Linked DNA regions of Homo sapiens: regions 1 and 3 are each linked to region 2. The links come from fine-mapping of genetic effects on gene expression. A gene starts in region 2. Each other region holds a variant in brackets. All regions are shown on one strand. Distances are from middle to middle.

Region 1 (4,232 bases), 28 kb before region 2:
CCTGACTGGTCTTCTTCAGACAAGTCACAAAAACAGGTCTCCTGTAAGGGACTCTAAAGATAGTTTTTTCTGCTGTCTCTGCAGCCCCCCAGACAGAACCCCACTTACTCTCAGCACACAGTAAGCATCCACGCTTGTTGCCAGCGGGGCTCCATCCCCACCCCAAGCCTGTGGGGCATTCTGTCTAAAGTCTCTGATGTCACTTTGCTGGGCACAGTAGACTTAGTTTAGAAATACACATTGCAACTATAAATACATTCGACTATAAATACCTGGCTTTCACATACTGGCTAATATACCTGCCTAGATAAGCTCAACTCACACCTTTAACAAAGTCGCCTACCATTTGTTTAAGGCTGCAGTCACCACAGTAATCACTGTGGCTCCCTATGGAGCCCTACTGGGCAAAGCTTAACTTTCTCCTGGTGTCTCGAATCCCACAAACCTCACATCCCATTTCACCTCCTTCGCTAAGAGCTCCTCCCCTCTGGGCCTTTCCCAGGCAGCACTCCAGCTCTCACTTTCCTTCCGCTCTGGGCACGGCTCTCTGTCCGCCAACCTGTGCCTCCAAACCCGTTCTGGGCAGTTCTCCCCTGTTAATTAGTCTTACAGAGTATTCTAAAATATATGCTCCAGGCATTCCTGGACATTTCCTAGCCAGGATATTTAAATATGTATTTGCATTTGTGAAAATAAATTACATTTAAAAGCTGTTGGAACTTCCAGGACTCCTCAAGCCTTGAGAGAGGTGTGGCTATGATCTGGGTCATGGAACATGTTTTGCAATTCTGTTGCTTGGATTACAGCTTAACTCTTCCTCATTCTTCTTTTTCTGTAATGGCTAGGAAACACCGGAGACCAGATCTCCGCCTTCTAATCACAGACCTTTGTTACAGATTTACCACCTCTTTAAGAGTCCCGACCATAACTCAGCCTAGATGGCAGTGTGGAATGTTAGATATACCTTTCCAAAAGAGGCCCCCCTCAAGTAATCAGATCATTGGAACTATGCATTAAGCCTTACACAGATGTTGAAATTCTGTGAAATTCCCCTAAGCTTTGTTTATATAAAGCAATCCCAAATCTCTACACTTGGTAACACTGACTTCCATTCTTTGGAATCTGTGCTTCCCAGAGATGTCCCGTTTTCAACCTCTGCACTTGAATAAACCCTCTGTAAACTAGTTTCTGACCCTTTCTATTATGTTAAGTTGACACATTCTCCCCTTAAACCACCGAAACCTCCTGAGCATTCTCTGCTTGCACACGCACCCTGCACCTTCTACCACCTCTCACACCTGGACCCCAGCGCAGCCCAGAGCAGCCCTGCGTCTCAGAGCACTTTGTACCCCTGGGTCTAGCAGAGTCCTATTCACAGCAGACTTTCCATGCAGACTGATAGCGACCTAACAAGGAGTGAATAACAGACCACCCCCTGGGGGTAAATCATGCTTCTGGGTCTGCTACTTGCCTAGAGGCAGTCTGCTAGTGGCAGGAAGAACAAGAGATGCAGACCCAGCTAACACGCCTGCCTCACCTCACAGGCCCTTACTGAGTCCCAACAGGGTATTATGAGGCTGATTCTAAGTGGGAAACACGCAAAATCAAATCCAGCTGCTGCCACAAGAAGAAACTGCTGCTGCCAGGTCGGGGTACACGTAGGTCAGGGGGCCTGCTCAGAGACTTTGGAGGCCTCAGGAAGCAGCCACAGGAGGAGCCCCTCCCCGCCAGCCTCCCTTGTCCCCGCCAGGCTCCCACGTCCCCGCCAGCCTCCCACGTCCCCGCCAGCCTTTCCACTCCCTGCCAGCCTCCTCCGTCCCCACCAGCCTCCCCACCTCCCAGCCAGCCTCCCTCCCCGCCAGCCTCCCCACCCTCCCCTCCAGCTTCCCCACCTCTGCACCAGCTCCCCCAATCCCCACCAGCCTCCCCAACTCCCCACCAGCTTCCCCAACTCCCTCCAGCCTCTCCCACTCCCTGCCAGCCTCCCCCACTCTCTGCCAGACTCCCCCATCCCCTCCAGCCTCTCCACTCCCTGCCAGCATCCCCACCTCCACGCCAGCCTCCCCACTCCCTATCAGCCTCCCTACTCCCCGCCAGCTTTTCCACTCCCCGCCAGCCTCCCCTCTTCCACCAGCTTCCCCTACTCCCTGCCAGGCTCCCCACTCTCCGTAAGCCTCCCTTTTCCCCACCAGCTTCCCCACGTCCCTTCTAGCCTCCCCCACTCCCCACCAGCCTCCCCCACTCCCCACCAGCCTCCCTACCCGCTCCCTGCCCTGTGGGCAGAGCTGAGCAGGACCTTCCCAGATCCGCCCCACCG[C/G]AAAGCAGGTACTGAGTAGGGAACTTGGGGCTGAGAAACAATAGCTTCGTAACCAGCCCAGTGACTCTTGCAGAAACCAGGGCAGAGTGTGATTAGACATGTCCTGTCCCGGGGCAGCCGTCATCCCATGGTTGACAACACATTTCACCCCAGAGCGTTCCTGCCTCCACCTGAGCCAGAGCTTCTAGTGTGTTTTTCCTCACCTCCCCATGTTCTGTGAGCCCAGCCCCCCTTAGATCCCCTTCCTCCAGCTACTAGAGAATCTCTCATCCAGCGACTATGACCCAGCACCAAAGCAGGTCACCGTGAACCCCACGTGGGGCAGGAAACCACAGGCTGACTCTCAAGTCAGACAGACCTGGGCCTTTGGACAAGCTGCACAACTTCTCTGATTCTTGCATTCTTGGGTGTATGAAAGTGAGTAGAATAAATGGACCCCCCCGGACAGGTGTGAGGACTCAGTGAGATAACCTTTATGTGGCACTCATCCAGCCCAGCCAGCCCCTGACATACAATCAGAACTCAGCTCATCTCAGTCTCCTTCCTCATTCTCCATCTTGCTCTTGGAGGTGTCATGGATGGGACACCTGAGTCACCTCGTCCAGCCGGCCAGCGTGAAGGAGCCTGACTGGCCCATCCACACATGGTTTCCTTGGCTGCCTCCATCTGCCTCCATCTCTCATAAGGTGGTTTTGCTCTTTCTGTGGATTGAAGAGCCTCCAACTGTGGCCTAGAGTATGGCTCAGGGCTGAATCAGAATATATGTACAAGAAGACAGAAGTCAGGTACAACTGGACACTTGAAAGGCTTTGGAGCAGAAAGGATGTCACAGTTGAAGCTGAACAGACTAGAAACCATCCAGAGAGGTGAAGGCGAAGGCCTTGGGTCCAGTTCCTCTGCCACCACCCACCTGCGTGTCTACCTGGACAAGGACTTAAAACTCTCGGGCCCTTGTTTTTCTCCCTTAAAATTATGGCAAACATGGTAATAAAACGTTTATGGGAACTTACTCGGCAAAGTGTTATAACTGATTTGACTGATGTGACTCGTTAGGTATGGGAACCCCCAAAATCTGAGACAGGTTTCAGTTAATTTAGAAAGTTTGTCAAGGTGGAGGATGCGCACCCGTGACACAGCCTCAGGAAGTCCTGACGTCATGTGCCCAAGGTGGTTGGAGCACAGTTTGGTTTTACACATTTTAGGCAGACATAAGACATCAATCAATATATGTGAAAAGTACATTGGTTCGGTCTGGAAAGATAGGACAATTTGAAGGAAAGCCAGGAAGACTTGAAGCAGGGAGGGGCTTCCAGGTCACAGATAGGTGAAATACAAACTTGCCTTATTTCGAGTTTCTGATTAGCTTTTCCAAAAGAGGCAATCAGATATGCATTCATCTCAATGAGCAGGGAGATAACTTTGACTAGAATGGGAGGCAGGTTGAATAGAATGGGAGGCAGGTTGAATAGAATGGGAGGCAGGTTGAATAGAATGGGAGGTAGGTTGAATAGAATGGGAGGTAGGTTGAATAGAATGGGAGGTAGGTTGAATAGAATGAGAGGCAGGTTGGCCCTAAGCGGTTTCCAGCTTGAGTTTTCCTTTTAGCTTAGTGAGTTTTGGGGGCCCAAGATATTTTTCTTTCCCAGGGAGCAAACCTGAAGTGGTTTCTTCTTCCAAAAACTGCTAATGGTCTCTCAGTCCAATTCCATAGATTTTTAGCAGCTTTCCATTGTTAAAGAATCTCCTTCTTTTTCCTGACGCCCCACTCACTGGCATGGGACATGACGTCAGGCTCATCCTCTCTCCTCCATCACCCCCATCAAAGCCAATATCTTTATCTTTTGAGACCCTTTTACTCAACAAGTGGCCCTGTAATGAGAGGCAGGACCGAAACCGCCTTTGCAAAATTATAACT
Region 2 (4,232 bases):
CTCTCTTTTTTTTTTTTTTTTTTTTTTTTGAGATGAAGTCTCCCTCTGTCACCCAGGCTGGAGTACAATGGTACGATCTCGGCTAACTGCAACCTCCACCTCCCAGGTTCAAGCGGTTCTCCTGTCTCAGCCTCCCAAGTAGCTGGGATTACAGGTGTCCACCACCACACCCAGCTAATCTTTGTATTTTTAGTAGAGACAGCGTTTCGCCATGTTGGCCAGGCTGGTCTCAAACTCCTGACCTCAGGTGATCCGCCTGCCTTGGCCTCTCAAAATGCTGGGATTACAGGCATGAGACATCGTGCCTGGCCAAGTTCTCTTTCTTCTTATGTTAATTTGAACATGCTTTCGCCATGGGATGTGCCTGCTCCCCTTTCACCTTCCGTTATGAGCATAAGCTCCCAAGGCCTTCCTAGAAACTGAGCAGATGCCAGCACCGTGCTTCCTGTAAATCCTGAAGAACTGTGAGCCAATCAAACTTCTTTTCTGATAAATTACCCAGTCTCAGGTATTTCTTTATAGTCATACAAGAACAGCCTATTACAATATATGGGTATATACATGAATGACAAAGAATGTCTCCCTGATCAGACTCTGGACAGCCTCCTCCGAGCTCTCTGCACGACTGGGCCCAACCTGGGCATTCCTTCCTCTGTTCCTGCAGAGTCTAGTTTTAGCAAGAATCCTGCTAAGTCAGTTTAATCCCAATTCCCCACCTCAGGTGTCTGAATACCCTCCATATCTGACCAAATTCCAACACCTGCTCCACCCCACCCCCATCCCCGATGTGGATCAACTTGGCCCACCCTCAGCAGGAATCCTGTTAGGTCAGGGAAGCCAGAACCCCCACTTGATGTCCCCTTCTCAATGACTTTCCATCCACCGTCCCCCACACTGCTCCTTGGCTATAAATCCCCACTTTTCCTTATTATTTTCGGACCCCAATCTCTCTCCCCTGCTGCAAAACCTCAGTGCAGTCCCTTACATCTAAGGAAATGGTTCTGAATAAAAGTCTGTCTTACCGTTTTTAAAACGTCAGAATGTTTTCAGATACGTGTGTGTATATATCTCCATATCTGTAAATATATATAAATATAGATATAGATATCTCCGAAGAGAAGGTTTTCCAATGTGCACTTTTTCTTCTTGCACATTGCGATCTTAACCCTCAAGCACATCTGGAAAAAGCTTCCATGAGGATACAGCCTGGGATGGATTTGTGGGCGAGGTGTAGACCACGATACCGGGTAACGTGCCCTGTGTTTTCTGGACACAGAACTGTAAGATTTCAAAAAGACCCAATCAATGATTCTAACCCAACTCTACATATATTTACTCAAACACAGTATTCCTCCCTGACTAGTGGTTAACGGACTTGCTTTAGGCGGCCCCAGAGGCGGTGGCCAGTTTAGCCACCTCCCGAGGAACCTGCGCAGTCCCGACGCTCACCAAGCGCTTTCCTGGCGGTTACAGGGTTGGGGGCAGCGCAGAACCCGCTTCTGCCCTTATCAGGAGCCCGGACCTGAGCTGGACTCCACCACCTCGTCCCCACCCACCCTGGAAGCCAGAAACCCCAAGCATCCTCCCTCCCTCCCCTGCTGGCCACTACGAATAAACCAGACATACAATTCGCGCCTAACGGCTTAGCCAGAAATGCCACCCGCAGTCGGGCCCCGGGCCGGAAACCTCCCCGACGCGGGGCCGCGTGCAGGGGAAGGGGCGGGCGCAGGCTGCGGGGTCGGCACGGAAGATGCACGCGAGGCTCCTGGGGCTCTCGGCCCTGCTGCAGGCGGCCGAGCAGAGCGCGCGTGAGTGCGGCAGCCCGAGGCTGTGCTCACCCCTGCAGCCCCTAACCCCACCCCGGCGCCGGGAGCCGCACAGGCTGCCTATGCCCGGGCGGGCACTGCCCCAGCCTGCGCCCAGCACTGCGCGCCGGTGACGCACGGTGGTGGCCATCCCACCTGCAGAGCACGTCCTCCCGTCCTTAGTAGATGCCCACGCATGCACCATCCCCCCAAGGATGCATGATTTTCCTCCACCCATGCTCGGTTCCCCCCCCTCCCGACTGGTGCTTGACTTCCTCCCGCCCATGCACGATCCCCCCGCCCCACGCATGCAAGATCCCCTCGCAGAAGCAGGGGAGATGTATCCGCCCTTCCTTCCATCACAAGCTTTGCAAAGTGCTGCGATGCCAAGATGTGCTGAGCGCAAGTCTGGGGGCGCCCGGGCTCTCCCCCGACCCCCGGCCGTCCAGGGGGACCCTGCGACTTGGAGGCCGCTCGCAGAAGGGGTGGCGGGGGGAGGGGGACAGGGCTCCGCATCCACGCGGCCCTGTAGGACGGCGACTCCGCTTCGGGGTTTAGGACGGGGCGGGACGCGGCCCTTCGAGGCCACCTCCGTCGCAGGGGGAACCCAGAGCCCGCCAGCCGCGGCGGAGCAAGATGGCCCCATTTTTCGCGCCCTTCTGGTTTGAACGCGTAACTCCTTCAGTGCCGGGAGGAGCGTCTCCGCCCACTTCCGCCGGGCTCCCTGCGGAAGCTTTTTCCCGGGCAGAGTCCCTGGGGTGGAAGAGGGGGTACCCTGGGAACGCCGCCTTGGGACTTTTCCCTGAGTTCGCGGGCGTCCCCGCAGGTCCCGCTGCTTCCGAGGCGCGCCGAGCAGGACGCACACGGAGGACGCGCAAGCGCCCTGGCTCCGCGCCCCGGACTGGAAGGGCTGAGACAGGACCTGCGGGGGTCGGCACCCACCCCAGGTGTCCTCCCTTGCCCTCCAGCTGGGCACGGACTGGGTGTCAGCATTCCCCAGCCCTGCAGCACCGAAGGCTTTTCGTGCAAGGGAGGCTGCCGCAGGACGCTCGGGGTGGTGACAGCCGGACCCAGCCTGGGCGCTAAGGGCTGCCTGAGCCCGGACCCCGCGGTCTAGAGCTGCAGCGTCTGCAGCTGTACCTCAGGGCAGTTTTCCCAGTTTCCCTAAAATCCGCGGCTTGTGTTCATTCATCCACTTAGAACTTTACTATTGGAAAACCTAAGTAACAGTTGTGTGAAACGATGCCTGTGTGCGGTGCCTCTACCAGCGCACCGCCTCCAAGATCAGCCTCAGACAACCCTGAGGAGGCCGTGCTAGGAGTATTGGGGAGGCCCAGAGTTCCAGGCCAGGGAGTTCCCCATGTGAAAGTAGGAGAAAAGGGACCCCACAGAGAGAGCTGTGACCCCACAGGGACTAACGGTTTCGTAGTGCGGAGTTACTGACTGCGGAGTGCACATTCTCTCTCCACTGCGTAACCACCATCAAAAACAAACAAGCAAACAAACCAGAGAGGAGGTTTCATCGTTCTCGAGGATGCACAAGATGCTAGGCGCTTCACACATGTCGTATATTGCCCAACAGCTCTGGAAAGCCCTGACAATGTCATTTAGTGAATGCCTGTCCCTGTTGCCAGAGGCTCTGCTGGCTCCCAGCCTGCTCCTAGGAGACTCTTGCTGGTGATGGGGACACTGTGTTGGTTGGTTACTGTTTTGTTTTGTTTTGAGACAAGAGTCTTGCTCTGTGGCCCAGGCTGGAATGCAGTGGCCCAATCTCGACTCACTGCAAACTCCGCCTCCTGAGTTGAAGCCATTCTGGTGCCTCATCCATCCCGAGTAGCTGGTATTACAGGCACGCAGCCAGCAAACTTGCTCATTTTTGTATTTTTAGTAGAGAGGCCCAGACTGGTCTTGAACTCCTGACGTCGAGCAATCTGCCCACCTCGGCCTCCCAAAGTGCTTTGGTTTTGTTTTTAATGAGATAATTAGGTGTGGCCACAAGATGAGACACAGGAGAGACTCTGGAAAGCAAAGTTTGCTGTACTCACAGGTCCTAGGACAGGAGACATGGCACACCATGCCGGGCCACAGGGGAATGTCACCAGGGTGGTCAGGAGGCAGGAGACAGGAACCAGGGGAAGTTGAGGCCAGACGCTTTGCTAGGGCAGAGCACCAGCTTCAGATTAGCCCTTTGAATAATTTCTGTGGCTTTGGGGTATAAGGGTGGTCCCTAGTTTCCTGGCACTGGGCCCTGGGATGATTAAGGCAAAAGAAGATTGCCTTCTGCGGGGGTATGGGCCAGGTAGGGGAGGTCTGGCTCTGGCTAGATTTAGTTCGCATGTCAAAGGCAAGCTCCTGGCTGGGCCCTTTGCTAGCTGAAATAATTGCTAGCCTTGGGAGGGACAGTCACTCCCCAGCCAGAAAGATTTT
Region 3 (4,232 bases), 69 kb before region 2:
TAGAAAAAAAATCCCAAATTGTACCAAAAATATTTAAATAATAACCGTCATGACAATATTATTTCTAGCTCTCATGAAATTTATCTCTTTAGTTATTTTGACATGGTGCTATTCAGATTTGGGGTTCTGAAATTAAATGAGAAAATACAGTCAAAGCACCCAGAATCCTAGTGGCCCCTGGTGCTCCCCACTTCTCTCCTCCACTGGTGTCCCTCCCATGGTAGAATCACTTTTAGTGGCTTCTTCACTGAAAAAGATAACTGAAGTCAAATGTTCACCCTCTCCACCACTCCCTTAAAAGATCCTGCCGTGGAAAAGATTCTGCCAGGGATCCAGGGCGCCATGGATCCTTTCATGGCACCTTTGGGATTTGGCATTTTGCAAGCTCTGGGAGGGTTTGCAGGGAATTGGTGATGTTGTGATAACAGAGGCCTGAGAAGAAGGGGTATTAGACTTCTACAGGACCCCTCTCTTCTGTGCTCATGGGTGGGTGGATGACTGGAATCGAACAGGACCACACAGTGAGTGGGCTCCAGCGGCATGCATAGCTCAACCCAGCTGTGGGTCAAGAATTACTTTAGTTGTACCGTTAAGCTGAACATGGAACTACAGCCACACTCATTCTGTGCTTATTTACTGAGCAGCTACTATGCGAAAAGTGGCCAGAGTGCAAGAACTATAAGAAATATGGCCTGGTCCCTGCTGTTTAGGAGCTCCCACTTTTCCATGTATCTGCATAGAAAGCTTTCTATTAGTTGGTGCAAACATAATTGCAGTTTTTGTATTGTGGAAATTTGCTAATTGACATTGGAATAGCTTCCTAAATAAATGTGGTTATATTATACATTTCAATGCACATTTCTCACTTTTTTTGGCTAACGGCTTGTTACTTGCTATTTATTTTATATTTATTTTGGACTATGGAAATGATGTTAGACAAAAAGCAAATTTGAGCAATTTTCTTATTTGAGTTCAAAATGCGTCATAAAGCAGCAGAGACAACTTGCAACATCAACAACGCATTTGGTCCAGGAACTGCTAATGAACACACAGTACAGTGGGGGTTCAGATGAGAAGCGTAGTGGCCGGCCACGGGAAATTGACCACGACCAGTTCAGAGCAATCATCGAGGCTGATCCTCTTACAACTACCCAAGAAGTTGCCAAACAACTCAACGTCGACCATTCTACGGTCATTCGGCATCTGAAGCAAATTGGAAAGGTGAAAAAGCTCAATAAGTGGGTGCCTCATGAGCCAAACACAAATTTAAAAAACAAAATCATCATTTTGAAGTGTCATCTTCTCTTATTCTGCACAACAACGACAATCCATTTCTTGATCAGATTGTGACATGCGATGAAAAGTGGATTTTATACGATAAGCGGTGGAGACCAACTGAGTGGCTGGACTGAGAAGAAGCTCCAAAGCATTTCCCAAAGCCAAACTCGCACCAAAAATAGGTCATAGTCACTGTTTGGTGGTCTGGTCTGCGCAGGTCTGATCCATTATAGCTTTCTGAATCCCTGAGAAACCATTACATCTGAGAAGTATGCTCAGCAAATCCGCGAGATGCATCGAACACAGCAATGCCTGTAGCTGGCGCTGGTCAACAGAAAGGGCCCAATTCTCTCCTCGACAATGCCCGACCCCAAGTTGCACGATCCATGCTCCAAAACTTGAACGAATTGGGCTATGACGTTTTGCCTCATGCACCATATTCACCTGAACCTCTTGCCAACCAACTACATCTTCAAGCATCTGGACAACTTTTTGCAGGGAATACACTTCCGCAACCAGCAGGATGCAGAAAAATGCTTTCCAACAGTTACTCAAATCCTGAAACACAAATTTTTACACTACAGGAATAAACAAACTTATTTCTTGTTGGCAAAAATGTGTTGATTGTAATGGTTCCTATTTTGACTAATAAAAATGTATTTGAGCCTAGTTATAATTTTTTAAAATTCACAGTCTGAAACCGCAATTGCTTTTGCACCAAACTAATATGAACATGAGGTCTCCCCAGCTCCTGGGCTGAGTACACACACCCTGTCAGAGGAAGACGTGAAGTGGATTCCATCACAACTGCCACACGCCTGGGCCCGGTGGAGCCAGTCAACCCAAACTTGTATTCAGTGCAGCATTTTCCCACATTTTGCCATCTGGTCTTATGCAAAACAGGTGTTGTTCTGCAGCTACAGAAAATGTGACCCGGGCACTTTGGTTATATACTCCCAGTTACTTGTCTAATAATTAGCCATGCTGGAATTCACAGTCGCAGACACTAAAGCCTGGGATTCTTGCAATGCTACAGCCATGAGCCTAGCCACACAGAAGGCACTGGGCCTTAGCCCATTTGACCTCCACAGCAACAGTCCTATAAGGCCACTGTCACCCTA[T/C]CTCCCAGGATGAGACAGAGACTCAGGGAGGCAAGTACTTGCACTCTACCTGTCCAGCTCGCATACGCCACTGGGCTAGAATTCACCTTACAGCTCTGCCCTTATGCACATCAGGGAGGAGGAAGGCAGCCTTTACACGCCACAGACTTACAGACACCATTTATAGACATTTCAGGCAGCACAGAGTGGAAGCCAGGAGGGCTTGATAGGCTTGCAGTGAGAACAGTCATCTCTGTGCCCCAGGCTGCACTCATGCCCTCAGTTCACACCAGTCCTTGGAGCGCCTACGCTGGTGACTGGGGCTGAGGGATGGTGGATGGAGGGCATGCTGGGTCAGAAAGAATCGTGGGGGGGCTTCATCCAGCCTGTCCTTTCTCTTCCCCCATCCTTTCTCTTCCCCCTGTCCTTTCTCTTCCCCCTGGGTCCCTGCTGCCCCTGGGCTCCTTCCCAGCCTGTGCCTCATCTGGGATGTGTCCTCTGAGGCAGCAACTGCCCTTGACCTTATTGTTACCTACCCTCTAGGCTCCTCTCCCAGCTTTTGCGTTTGGGTGGAGGATGTGGCCAGCAGACACCGTGATGCCTGCGTGTCTGGGCAAAACAGGGGAAGAGAGGAAATACCAGCCGGCTCAGCCTGTGTGTGTATGTGCACCCGTGGGTCAGCATGTGCATGTGTGTGTCTGTATGTGTGTGTCTCTGTGTGTCTGTGTGTGTGTCTGTGCGTGTGTGTCTGTGTGTCTCTGTGTGTCTGTGTGTATCTGTGTGTATGTGTGTCTGTGCATGTGTGTGTCTATGTATCTGTGTGTGCCTGTGTGTGTGTGTCTGCATGTGTGTCTGTGCATGTGTGTCTGTGTCTGTATGTGTGTGTGTCTGTGTGCTTATGTGTCTGTGTGTGTGTCTGTGTGTGTCTGTATGTGTGGGTGCGTCTGTATGTGTGAGTGTGTCTACGTGTGTGTGTGTGTATGTGTGGCTGTGTGTGTCTGTGCGCGTGCGTGTATACAATATTGGTGGCTCCCTCTCTAGAGAGGCCTTCTCAGACTGCCTCCTCTTAAACTAACCTCTTCATCCACTTATCCTGATTAATTTTTTACACACTTTCCCCTGCCTGACACCATATTTTACACACACACACACACACACACAGAGTTTATGGGTCTGTTGTCCGTCTTTTCCACTGGGTTAACCTATTCTAGTAAAACAGAAGTTCTAGGAGGGAAGGAACCTTGCTTGTCCTGTGACTCCATGTGATTGGCATCAGGACAGAGCCCCTGCAAGTGGAGCCAGGAAACAGGGAGGGCGGGCGCAGGGGAAGTGTCGTCCTCCAGGCTGCAGACCAAGGTCACAGAAGCCTCCCCACCCATGGCTGAGGCCTGTTGCCGAGAAGGCTAAGAAACCTCCACCAATCTCCAAGAATGGTGGCCTGCACTTCACCAAAACTGTCCAAATCCCTCACGAGTTCCCCACAGTAGTGAACCCTGACTCAGGCCCACACGTGGGAGGGACAAGAGTGTTGCTGCTGAGGGCACAGCCAGCTGGGAGACAGGAGGCTCCCAGATGCACAGCAAGCAGTCAATCAACATCCATGAATAAATGGGCAAACTAATAAGGAACCCATTGATATTTAGACTGATTCAAATGCACTAGAAAGGGCCAGGCGCAGTGGCTCACGCCTGTAATCCCAGCACTTTGGGAGGCCAAGGTAGGCTGATCATTTGAGGTCAGGAGTTCGAGACCAGCCTGGCCAACATGGTGAAACCCCATCTCTACTACAAATGCAAAAATTAATCAGCTGTGGGGGCGCATGCCTGTAGTCCCAGCTACTCAGGAGGCTGAGGC

Direction of the effects. Positions count from the first base shown, and alleles are read on the strand shown. Sizes are in standard deviations (SD) of each study's normalised expression. Not every link is listed here.
For the expression in esophagus mucosa of the gene that starts at base 1,690 in region 2, allele G in region 1 goes with a lower level than allele C (small effect, 0.30 SD a copy in GTEx).

The links. PIP is the estimated chance that this variant, and not a neighbour inherited with it, causes the effect.
Region 1: its variant is the best candidate, but not a certain one, in a credible set for the expression of GS1-24F4.2 in esophagus mucosa (GTEx, PIP 0.62).
Region 3: its variant is the best candidate, but not a certain one, in a credible set for the expression of GS1-24F4.2 in sun-exposed skin (GTEx, PIP 0.53).

Annotation. Positions count from the first base shown.
Region 1 is chr8:6,861,169-6,865,400 of GRCh38, reverse strand. No RefSeq gene overlaps it. Among named protein-coding and RNA genes, the nearest start is that of DEFB1, 15 kb to the left of the region's middle. The variant C/G (reference allele first, on the strand shown) is at 2,318.
Region 2 is chr8:6,833,012-6,837,243 of GRCh38, reverse strand. It overlaps GS1-24F4.2 (a long non-coding RNA gene), which reads right to left and starts at 1,690. Exons shown (of 3, transcript NR_045217.1): 1 at 1,627-1,690; 2 at 1,023-1,278. XKR5 (XK related 5) reads left to right here and starts at 1,720. Exons shown (of 7, transcript NM_207411.5): 1 at 1,720-1,808. The coding sequence starts at 1,751. RefSeq lists an enhancer at 2,470-3,338.
Region 3 is chr8:6,902,217-6,906,448 of GRCh38, reverse strand. No RefSeq gene overlaps it. Among named protein-coding and RNA genes, the nearest start is that of DEFA6, 22 kb to the left of the region's middle. The variant T/C (reference allele first, on the strand shown) is at 2,400.